Linked DNA regions of Homo sapiens: region 2 is linked to region 1. A link means that fine-mapping ties the variant in region 1 to the plasma level of a protein whose gene starts in the linked region. Region 1 holds a variant in brackets. A gene starts in the other region. All regions are shown on their reverse strands.

Region 1 (5,309 bases):
AAATGAACATTTCAGGTATAGAAATTAACTCAGCTTTATAATTTCAGGTTTCTCTTTAAATACTAGAACTATAAATATTTCAAAAAGCTATTCAGGTCTATTTCCAATAATCAGATTCTCTTTTATTGTAAAACTAAAAATTTTTTGTTGTATTGTAAAACAAAATAAAAAGGCGGGGCGCGGTGGCTCACACCTGTAATCCTAGCACTTTGGGAGGCCAAGGCGAGAGGATCACTTGAGGTCAGGAGTTCAAGACCAGCCTGGCCAACATGGTGAAACCCCATCTCTACTAAAAATACAAAAATTAGCCAGGCATGGTGGCATGTGCCTGTAATCCCAGCTACTCGGGTGGCTGAGGCAGGAGAATAGCTTGAACTCAGAGGTGGAGGTTGCGGTGGGCCGAGGTTGGACCACTGAACTCCAGCCTGGGCGACAGAGCCAGACTCTGTCTCAAAAACAAACAAATAAAAAACAAACAAACAAAAAAACAAAAATAAAAATAGTCTTTCTAGATAAGGACTACCTTATGCGTAGCACATTATTTTATGGTAAAATAATACATTCCTTTGAATATATTATACAGCGATCATCATCACTAATTACATAGGAATATCTAAGATGCATTTATTATCATAATTTTCAAGATCAGGAGTCAAAGAATCCCAGTGGGACCAAGTGATTTTGCCAACGCCATCTCCTGAGTCTGTGACCATGGGAGGAAAGTTCTGTTTCCACAAAGCCAAATAGTGATTAGCCTTCAGAAAGCAAGCCTGCCTACAATACTTTTAGTAAGAGAATTGTTTCCACCCTCCCACAGCAGAAACTCATAATCTCAGGAAAATACAAGTCAATATTCATTCAAATAATCATCTCATTAACTAATAAAAATGAATTGCAAATGTTTTCTGCCCTTGGGTATGTATATTAAAAAATATTTAACATTTAACAAAGTCAACACTGAGACAAGTACTTACTAAAATACAAAGTTTTTCCATTGAAAAAATACTGTAATTAAACTTGTTAAAAATATGGGTATATATTTTACTCTTTTACAAAGGAAATAGCATTATACCCATTGAAACAATTATCTTTCATTCTAAGTGCATCCAAAATACAAAAAGATCATCACAAACCCTCATATACCTCTAACTTTTCTTAAAATGAGGAATGTTTTCAAACTCCTTAAGCTGTCATAGGCTCAGTGGCTGATTGTATATTAATCAGTAGACAATGTTCTTACGTGCTTATATGTTTTATTTTGGGTAAAATTAAGTCAATTGTCAAAAATAGGCCTGAAATAAGGAGACACATTTTCCTAGAAGAGATGTAATTGTGATAGAATATAATCATTTACAAATATGAATAAACAAATTATAACACCTTTATGGAAAACTTAAATTTGCCATAGAACTTTTTAAATTGAGAAAGTTTCTCCTTTGCTAATTGAATATTTAAATAAATTTAATGTACAGAGTTTTTGGATCCAAGTGCTACTTGCAATTTATGACGAAAGGCACCTATCCGTTCTTTCTGAACTGGCCAGTTCAAGATGCAGTGAGATTTAAACATTCCTCTTCGCAAACAGAGTGCATGGTTCAGTTTATAATCTGGAATCTCCTCAAGGAAAACCAATATAATGGAATCCAGATTTTGTTCAATAGCTTGTTGAACTGCATGATGTACCTTGAATCTAAGTAAAAAAATGTATTGAAGAATTAATATACGGTTTTTAACAGCCAGAAGCAATACTATTTAAAAATACTCTGTAGAGTTTAAACTGTTACTGAAACTCAGGTTTTTTTTTTCTTAATTTTATTTTAAAAATTCTTTGAGTTGTGAGTAATATTGGTAATATTTAAAAGTTTAATTGAAGCTCACCTGAGGCCAGGAGTTCAAGATAAGCCTGGCCAACACGGTGAAACCCCATCTCTAATAAAAATACAAAAATTAGCCAGGCTTGGTGGCGCGTGCCTGTAATCCCAACTACTTGAGAGGCTGAGGCAGGAGAATTACTTGAACCCAGGAGGTGGAGGCTGCAGTAAGCTGAGATCACACCACTGCACTCCAGCCTGGGCAACAGAGCAGGACTCCATCTCAAAAAAAAAAAAAGAAATTTAATTGAAAAGCAAGTACACACTTAAAATTTCACAATGTTTACCTACCTTTTGCATAATGGGTCTTTTAATAGATGGTGTGTTATAACAAAAATAATTTTTCTGCTTCTTTTGATGCTGTTAACAATTGCTTCTAGTTCAAAAACACCCGCCTCAAAGTCCCTTTCTTCCAGACAAAATTTGAGAGATTGGTCTTCCTTTTCCATTGAAGAGAAATGTTCCCAGACCCAATCCTTATCTTTATAGGCATGAATTATATATGCTGCATATTCAAACTGTTCTGTCTGTCTGTCTATTTCTTTGAAACCAAGAACTCGATGTACTGAAACATTCCAATAAAAAGATATCCTCCAGCCCTCAAAGTGGATGAGAAGTACAATAAAGATAAAAATCAACAGGATACTGGTATTGATCATGAAAAAGAGTTCAAAGGGGGCACTGTCTTTGCAAGATGATGTATCAAAAAGTCTCACTGGGAACCCATGATAGTGAGGTGGAGTGTTGCAAAGGTAGTGGCTTGACAGCTCAGGGATGTTGGTATGGGTCTCGTTAATCCAATTAACAAACCAGGCAATACTTTCACACGTGCAATCAAAGGGATTAAAGCGCATATCTAACTCAGTCAGGTTCCTGAAAGCTGGCCCGAAAACCTTCTTCTCAACGGATGTTATGAGATTCTTCTGAAGGTTCAATGACTTTAGAGACACCTGATTATTAAAGACAGATGCTGGAAGTGTGTTTAAATTATTCAATCCTAAATCGATGATCTTTAGTTCAAATAAATCCTTGAAGACCTCAACTGGGATCTCGTCAAAGCCGTTGGACTCCAAGTTAAGGATGTGGAGGTGAGACAGACCCTTTAGGAAATAAATGGGACCACCAGGGTTTGCGTGTTTCCAGAGCCGTGCTAAGTTGTTATGCTGCAAATCGAGAATTTCTAGTTTCTCAAGACCCTCCAACATGTCATCATTTATGTTGGCTATGTTGTTGTTGCTTAGATCCAGAATGGTCAAGTTACGAAGAGGCTGGAATGGTGAAGGAGAGCTATCCACATTTTTAAGGGCCACCCTTCGGAGCATCAGTCGTTGAAGGCTTGGGACCAAGGCAAAGGAGTTCCTAGTCAGCTGCAGGTACTTGTTGTAGGAAAGATAGATTTCGAAAATATTTTCTAGACCTCTCCATTCCTGGCCTGTGAGTTCTTGCCCAATTTCATTAAGGCCCAGGTCAAGTACTTCTAGGTGGCCCAACCAAGAGAAAGCATCACTCTCTATTTTTGAGATTTTATTCTTGGTTAGGTTGA[G/A]TATGTGTAAGGGAGAATGAGCAAGTGATACAAATGTTTCATTTGTCAAAGTTCGCAAACTTGTAAAGGAGTTGGATAGACTTAAGTATTTCAGGTTTATCAATCCTGTGAACATATTGCTTTTTATGCCTGGAATATCATTATCTTCCATGTTAAGGTGCTCCAAACATTTTAGCCACTGAAAAGAAAAATCATCAATCTTGGGGAGTGAGGCAAGGGAAATACTTTGTTTAGTAAAAGACCGTTTCAAATTCAGGTACCTCACATTGAAAAGCCCGTGCAAAGAGTGAGAAAACAAATGCTGTATATTATTATACTCTAGGAAGAAATATTCTAGTTGTGGAAGCCAAGCAAAGGAATCGTTACCAACCACATTTAAGTTGTTGTAGGAAAGATCGAGCATAGTGAGATTTGTCCACTTTAGTCCCAAGAAAGTTGTATTGCTGGTGGTGGACAGCTGGCTGTTACTCAGAGACAGATTCCGAATGCTTGTGTTTGCTAATTCCAAACATAGCTTCTCTGTAAGGCTGGGACCCAGCTGGACATTGTTCAGAAAGAGGCCAAATAATCTTCCAATTGCGTGAAAACACCCTGGAGAAAACTAAAGGTAGGAAAAAAAAAGAGGTTAACAATCAAAAGAACACAGACTCTGTAATGCTGTTGAAAGCCTTTTTTTTTTTTTTTTTTTTTTTTTTTGAGACGGAGTCTCGCTCTGTCGCCCAGGCTGGAGTACAGCAGTGCAATCTCAGCTCACTGCAAACTCCACCTCCTCAGTTCAAGCAATTCTCCTGCCTCAGCCTCCCGAGTAGCTGGGATTACAGGCATGCGCCACCACGTCCAGCTAAGTTTTGTATTTTTAGTAGAGTCGGGGTTTCACCGTGTAGGCCAGGCTGGTCTTGAACTCCTGACCTCATGATCCGCCCGCCTCAGCCTCCCAAAGTGCTGGGATTATAGGCCTGAGCCGCTGCACCCGGCCAGATGCAGTTCTTTACTCCATCTCCGCTCACCCTTCACCACATCCCATGGGCAGAGCATTTCTCCCCCTTCCTGTAATGCACGAGTCCTTCCTTACTCGGTTCCTGCAGCGCCCACCTCTTACTCCAGCCTCTGACCTCCCCTGGCCACGGGCTAACTTCTGCTCAGCATTCACAGCCTCAGCTTAGATGCCACCTTTTCAGGGAGGCTTCTCTGACCTTCCAGTCCAGGATCCATCTCCTGGTACTTTTTCTTTATCACCATGAGAACAATTGCAATGAATAAACTGCTCGTGAAGTCACTCCTGGGGCAGTTCCTGGTTGTGTCTTGGTGCCGCTGTTCTCAGTGAGCCTCATGGAAGGAAGTTGTGGATGGCTTTTATGATGAGGCGGTGACGGCACACTTTCCTTTCTGGAACTCTGAGCTCTAGCTCTCCCTCTCGTCTTTCCACCCGGATTTTCTCCTGACTTTCTTTTACTATCGTGTTTTTCCAGCTCCCTTCTGCTCCGTCCTACACCCTTACCAGAGCCTTGGCTGTTCTGGGACTCACTTCGGGGACAAGAGAACAGCAGGTGGGAGAGGAGGAATCCAGAGAGAATGGAGGCCAGTTCCGGCAGGCAGTCGAAACCGCCAGAGGAGTAAAGGGCTCTGATTTCTTTTTCTTTTTTTTTTTTTTTGAGACAGAGTTTCGCTCTGTCCCCCAGGGTGGAGTGCAGTGGTGCGATCTCAGCTCCCTGCAACCCTTGCCTCCTGGGTTCAAGCGATTCTCTTGCCTCAGCCTCCTGAGTAGCTAAGATTGATGTCTCCTGCTCTTTAGATTTAATATCATATTATGAACATCTCCCATACAATTAAGAAGCATTCCAAAGCTTAATTTTAATGCCTGTAAAATAATGCTATCATGCAGATTTATCATACTT
Region 2 (5,376 bases), not on the chromosome of region 1:
AACTTAGTGGCGTAAAACAAATATTATTATGCTCACAGTTTCTGTGGGTCAGGAACTTAATCAGGGCCCAGTGGTGATGGCTTGTCTCTGCTCCAGCTGGGACCTAGAGTCATCTAAATGCTTCTTCACTCGCATGTCTGGTTCCTGAGCTGGGGTGATTCAAAAGCTATACTGGGACTATCAGATGGAGTACCTATATGTGGTCTCTCTGTATGTCTGGGCTTCTCACACCATTGTGGTTAGGTTCCAGGATGTAGCATCCTGACCGCTTTTCTTTTCTTTTCTTTCTTTTTTTTTTTTTCTTTCTCGAGACGGAGTTTCACTCTTGTTGCCCAGGCTGGAGTGCAATGGCGTGATCTCCGCTCACCACAACCTCCACCTCCCGGGTTCAAGCGATTCTCCTGCCTCAGCTTCCCGAGTAGCTGGGATTACAGGTATGCATCACCACACCCGGCTAATTTTTGTATTTTTAGTAGAGATGGGGTTTCTCCATGTTGGTCAGGTTGGTCTCAAACTCCCGACCTCAAGTGATCTGCCCGCCTTGGCCTCCCAAAGTGCTAGGATTACAGGCCTGAGCCCACGGAGGCTGGCCTTTTTTTTTTTTTTTTTTTTTTTTTTTTTTTTTTTTTTAAGATGGAGTTTCTCTCTTGGTGGCCAGGCTGGAGTGCAGTGATGTGATCTCGGCTCACCACAACCTCCACCTCCCGGGTTCAAGCATTTCTCTTGCCTCAGCCTCCCGAGTAGCTGGGATTACGGGGTCATGCCACAACTCCCGGCTAATTTTTGTACTTTTAGTAGAGACAGGGTTTCACCATGTTGGCTAAGCTGGTCTCAAATTCCTGACCTCAAGTGATCTGCCTGCCTCAGCCTCCCAAAGCACTGGGATTACAGGTGTGAGCCACCATGCCTGGCAGTACACACACATACTTGCACACGTGTGGGCATGAACATGCACAGTTACGCACCTTTGGTTAGACTCAAGTTCAGGCAGACACTCATTTCCATACAAATACATACATAGTCACAGAAGTCAGGCACACACAAATATACACAACGAGTCACAAATTTTGCCTGCATCACCCAGACATCCACACCCAGTCACAGACCCACAATCACACACACACTCAAGGATTCACCTATCACAGAAGGTTCCAATTCCTTGTTGTTTATTTGTGCATAATGTATAAAAGTAAAACAATAAACTCAGCCCTATGTCTCAGTCAGGGCTGCAGCTTCATAAATAAAGGGTGAGAGGAAATAAATTAAGGAAGGAGTAGGGCTCAGCGCATAAATAAGGTGTGGGGTGTCAGGTGGACTCAGGGTGGGTTGACGTTCTCAGACACAGGTTCCCATCGGCCACATATTTGAGGTCTCGCGTGAGGAGGCGGAAGAGGTTGAAGGTGACAGATGCCTCCAGGCAGCCAGCGGACTCCTGTAGGGGAGGAGGGGATGGGTCAGGGGCTGTCCAGGGTCTGGGCTCCTATTGGCTCCCCAGACCCTGGTCCTTCTCTTCCTGGGTCACTCACCTTTTTGGGGGCCTCCTGGAGCCGGTGCAGCCAGTGGTGGAGGCGGCCCCGGGGCCTGGGCCCTGCTGTGGGCTGAGGCTGGATCTGTGGGCAGAAGAGGGCGGTGTGTGAGGCGGAGCCTGGGCCACCACAGGGGAAGGATGCTGCTCAGAGCCCACAGACCTGGGTGCCCGGGCCCCAAGGACTCACACAGGCCTGGAGCTGGGAGAGGATGTGGTGCAGGGTGTGAAGGGGCTGGTCTAGGACGTCCTCCAGGGCTGGGCCAGCAGCGGCCTCCAGGACCTTCAGCGTCAGGGCCAGCTCAGCCTCCAAGGCCACAGGGCGCTCCCTCACCTGAGGAGAGGTGAGAAAGAGCAGGTGAGGGAGAACAGGCAAGAAGACCCAGTTAGTGGGGACAGGTAGGCAGTCCTGGGGAAGGTCGGTGACACAGTGCATGTGGTGGGGACAGGTGAGGGGTCTGGGGAGAAGGAGACAGGAGGGGGAAGACATGAGGAAGGATACAGGTGAGGCAGGATGGTCAAGGAGGCAGGTGAGGGGATAAGTGAAATGGAGACAAATGAAAGGGGACTTACGGGGGTCACAGAAGTTCTCTGGGGCGGGGTGGGGACGGGTGAGGAGAAAGCAGGTTGGGGGCACAGTAAGAGAGGGACAGTTGCATGCACAGAGAAGAAGGGTAGGGCTGGGTGTGGTGGCTCACGCCTGTAATCCCAGCACTTTGGGAGGCCGAGGCGGGTGGATCACCTGAGGTCAGGATTTCGAGACCAAGCCTGGCCAACATAGTGAAACCCCGTCTCTGCTAAAAATACAAAAATTAGCTGGGCATCATGGCACATGCCTGTAATCCCAGCTACTCGGGAGGCTGAGGCAGGATAATTGCTTGAACCCGGGAGGCAGAGGTTGCAGTGAACCGAGATCATGCCACTGCACTCCAGCCTGGGCCATAGAGCAAGACTCTGTCTCAAAAAAAAAAAAAAAAAAAAAAAAAAGAGAAGGGTGGATGAGGGGGGAGCATGAGCTGGATGAATGTCAGTGAGAGATAATGAGGGACAGGTGACAGAGGCAGGTGAGAGGGAGAGGGGGTCAGTGTTGGGAACAGACAGGGAGAAGTGGAGCAGGACGAAAGGCACAGGTGGGCGACAGACTGGAGACATTTGGGAGAGAAATGAAGAGTGAGAGTGGAAGTGACAGGGACAGGTGAGCGAGCTAGGGAAGTGGGGCCGATGGGAGATGATAAAAGGGACCCAGGGGAAGGACAGAGTCAAGAGAGCAGTTTTGAAGTGGCAGGGGCACAGGACAGGTGAGGAGAGGTCCAAGAGAGTGAAGGACAAGGGAAACAAAGAAGGCTAAGGGGCCACTTAAGAAGAGGGGGGAGAGGGTCAAGGGAAGGGTGAAGGGGGCCTGACTTTCAGCTCACCTGGAGAAGCCTCAGGTCCCAATTCCCGGGGAAGACAGGAGAGCTGCAACTCCAGTTTTTCAGCTTGAGTGACTCTTCCTAGAGAGCAAGGGCAGGGGTTAGCCCACAGCAGGATGGCTGGAAGCTAGCTCATAGCAGCAAGGATGAAGTTGGCCTGACAGCATGGGTTTAACCCAGTGCAGAAAGGATAGAGGTTTGCCATAGTTGGAAGGCTAGAGGCTAGCCCACAGTAGAAGGGCAGTAATTGGGACACCCGTAGAAGTGGTTCATCCACAGCAACAGGAACTCACCAAGGCGTCCCTGGCCTTCTTGAAGCTCGCTAGCTCCTGTGGTGACAGAGATTTGAACCTGCCAATGTGGCAGCCCTTCCCAGTTGTGGTGGGCTTGGAAGTGGGGACAGGGCCTGCCACGGCCAAGCCTAGCACCAAAGTCACCAGCACCACGGTCCAAGCTGCAGCCATGGCTAAATCGCAACTGCTTCCCCAGCGGCATGGCTCTGCTTTTTAGCCACGCAAAATGGGCAATCCAAGATGATGTGTGTAAAGTGAAAAGGTAATTGGAAATGAGAATTTCCACTTTGACTTAAGAGGCATGAGTGGGCGGGGCCCGTCTGGGAGCCTGATGAGGGAACAGGTGTGGGCAGGGCCAAGTGAGCTGGGAGCTGCATCAAGAAGGAAAGAGAAACTGAAATCCTTAGAACTCCCTGGGCAGCTTTCAGCCAACTGGCCTCAGGGAGTCCCTGACGGAGGCTGAGATTAGGGATAAGGCTACCTGAGTGGCAGAGAGGAAGCTTCTTTTTTATTCTAAATTAGCCAGGTGTGGTGGCATGCGCCTGTGGTCTCAGCTACTCAGGAGGCCGAGGCATGAGAATCACTTGAACCCGGGAGGCGGAGGTTGCAGTGAGCCAAGATCGTGCCACTGCACTCCAGCCTGGGTGATGGAGTGAGATCCTGTTTCAAAAAAAAAAAAGCTTGTTTTTTATTTTATTGTTATTATTATTTTTTGAGACGTAGTTTTGCTCTTGTTGCCCAGGCTGGAGTGCAATGGTGCAATCTTGGCTCACTGCAACTTCTGCCTCCCGAGTTGAAGCGATTCTCCTGCCTCAGCCTCCTAAGTAGTTGGGATTACAGGTGCATGCCATCACGCCTGGCTAGTTTTTGTATTTTTAGTAGAGACTGGGTTTTACTATGTTGGTCACGCTGGCTTCGAACTCCTGACTTCAGATGATCTGCCTGCCTTGGCCTCCCAAAGTGCTGGGATTACAGGCGTGAGCCACCACCTTACTTTATTATTTATTTATTTATTTTTGTAGAGATAGGGGTCTCACTATGTTGCCCAGGCCAGTCTTGAACTCCTGGCCTTAAGCCATCCTCCTGCTTCAGCCTCGCAAAGTGCTAGTATTAAAGGCATGAGCCACTGCTCCTGGCCAAGAAGGAGCTTCTGCCATTGGTTTAAGAATGTCCCATTAACTAATTTCAGTTCATGCTCCTAATGTTTCTCTGAGTAGTTATTTTTATAATTGTGATGGTTAATTTTAGGTGTCACCTTGACTGGTTAAGTTTATCAGATAGCTGGTGATGCGTTAATTCTGGGTATGACTCTGGGGTGTTTCCAGAAGAGATTGGCATTTGAATCAATGGACTGAGTAAGGAAGACCCGTTGTTACCCAATGTGGTGGGCACCATCCAATTGGCCGAGGGCCTGAATAGAACAAAAAGGCAGAGGAAAGGAGAATTTGCTCTCTCTTATGAGCTGGGACACCCTGCACCTGCCCTTAAACATCAGAACTCCAGGCTCTTTGGTCTTTGAATGCTGGGATGTGCAGCTGGGCATGGTGGCTCACGCCTGTAATCCCAGCAGTTTGGGAGGCTGAGGCAGGTGAATCACTTGAGGTCAGGAGTTCGAGACCAGCCTGGCCAACATGGTGAAACCCCATCTCTACTAAAAATATAAAAATCAGCCAGGCGTGGTGGCACAGGCCTGTAGTCCCAGCTACTTGGGAGGCTGAGGCAGGAGTATCGCTTGAACCCTGGAGGCGGAGGCTGCAGTGAGCTGAGATCATGTCACTGCACTCCAGCCTGGTCAACAGAGTGAGACTCCATCTCAGAAAAAAAAAAAATGCTGGGACTTGCACTAGCTACCCCCTAAGTCCTGAGGCTTTTATTCTGGAACTGAGCTGCACTACAAGCTTCCCTGGTTCTCCAGCTTGCAGATGGCCTGTTGTGGAACTTCTTAGCCTCCCTAATTGTCTGAGCCAATTCCCCTAATAAATCCCCTCCTATCTCTCTCTCATCTATCTAGTCTCTCTCTCTCTCTCTCTCTCTCTCTCTCTCTATCTAGTCTATCTCTCTCATCTATCTAGTCTATATCTCTCTATCTATCATCTATTTATCCAAACATCCTATTTGTTCTGTCTCTCTGGAGAACCCTGACTAA

Direction of the effects. Alleles are on the strand shown, and positions count from the first base shown. The strength of an association depends on the size of the effect and on how common the allele is.
For the plasma level of the protein whose gene starts at base 3,416 in region 2, allele G in region 1 goes with a higher level than allele A (moderate association).

Evidence for each region. PIP is the chance, under the fine-mapping model, that this variant and not a neighbour inherited with it causes the effect. Protein levels are from antibody-based Olink assays in UK Biobank. Linkage for the fine-mapping came from a reference panel and not from the study's own genotypes, which makes the PIPs less certain.
Region 2: IFNL1 starts here. The variant in region 1 is fine-mapped to the plasma level of the IFNL1 protein (UK Biobank, PIP above 0.99).

Annotation. Positions count from the first base shown.
Region 1 is chr4:186,081,026-186,086,334 of GRCh38, reverse strand. TLR3 (toll like receptor 3) reads right to left here. Exons shown (of 5, transcript NM_003265.3): 4 at 2,163-4,015; 5 at 1-1,690. The coding sequence ends at 1,462. Among named protein-coding and RNA genes, the nearest start is that of TLR3, 15 kb to the right of the region's middle. The variant G/A (reference allele first, on the strand shown) is at 3,415.
Region 2 is chr19:39,294,447-39,299,822 of GRCh38, reverse strand. IFNL1 (interferon lambda 1) reads right to left here and starts at 3,416. Exons shown (of 5, transcript NM_172140.2): 1 at 3,231-3,416; 2 at 2,941-3,018; 3 at 1,716-1,859; 4 at 1,527-1,610; 5 at 1,150-1,432. The coding sequence starts at 3,401. The coding sequence ends at 1,307.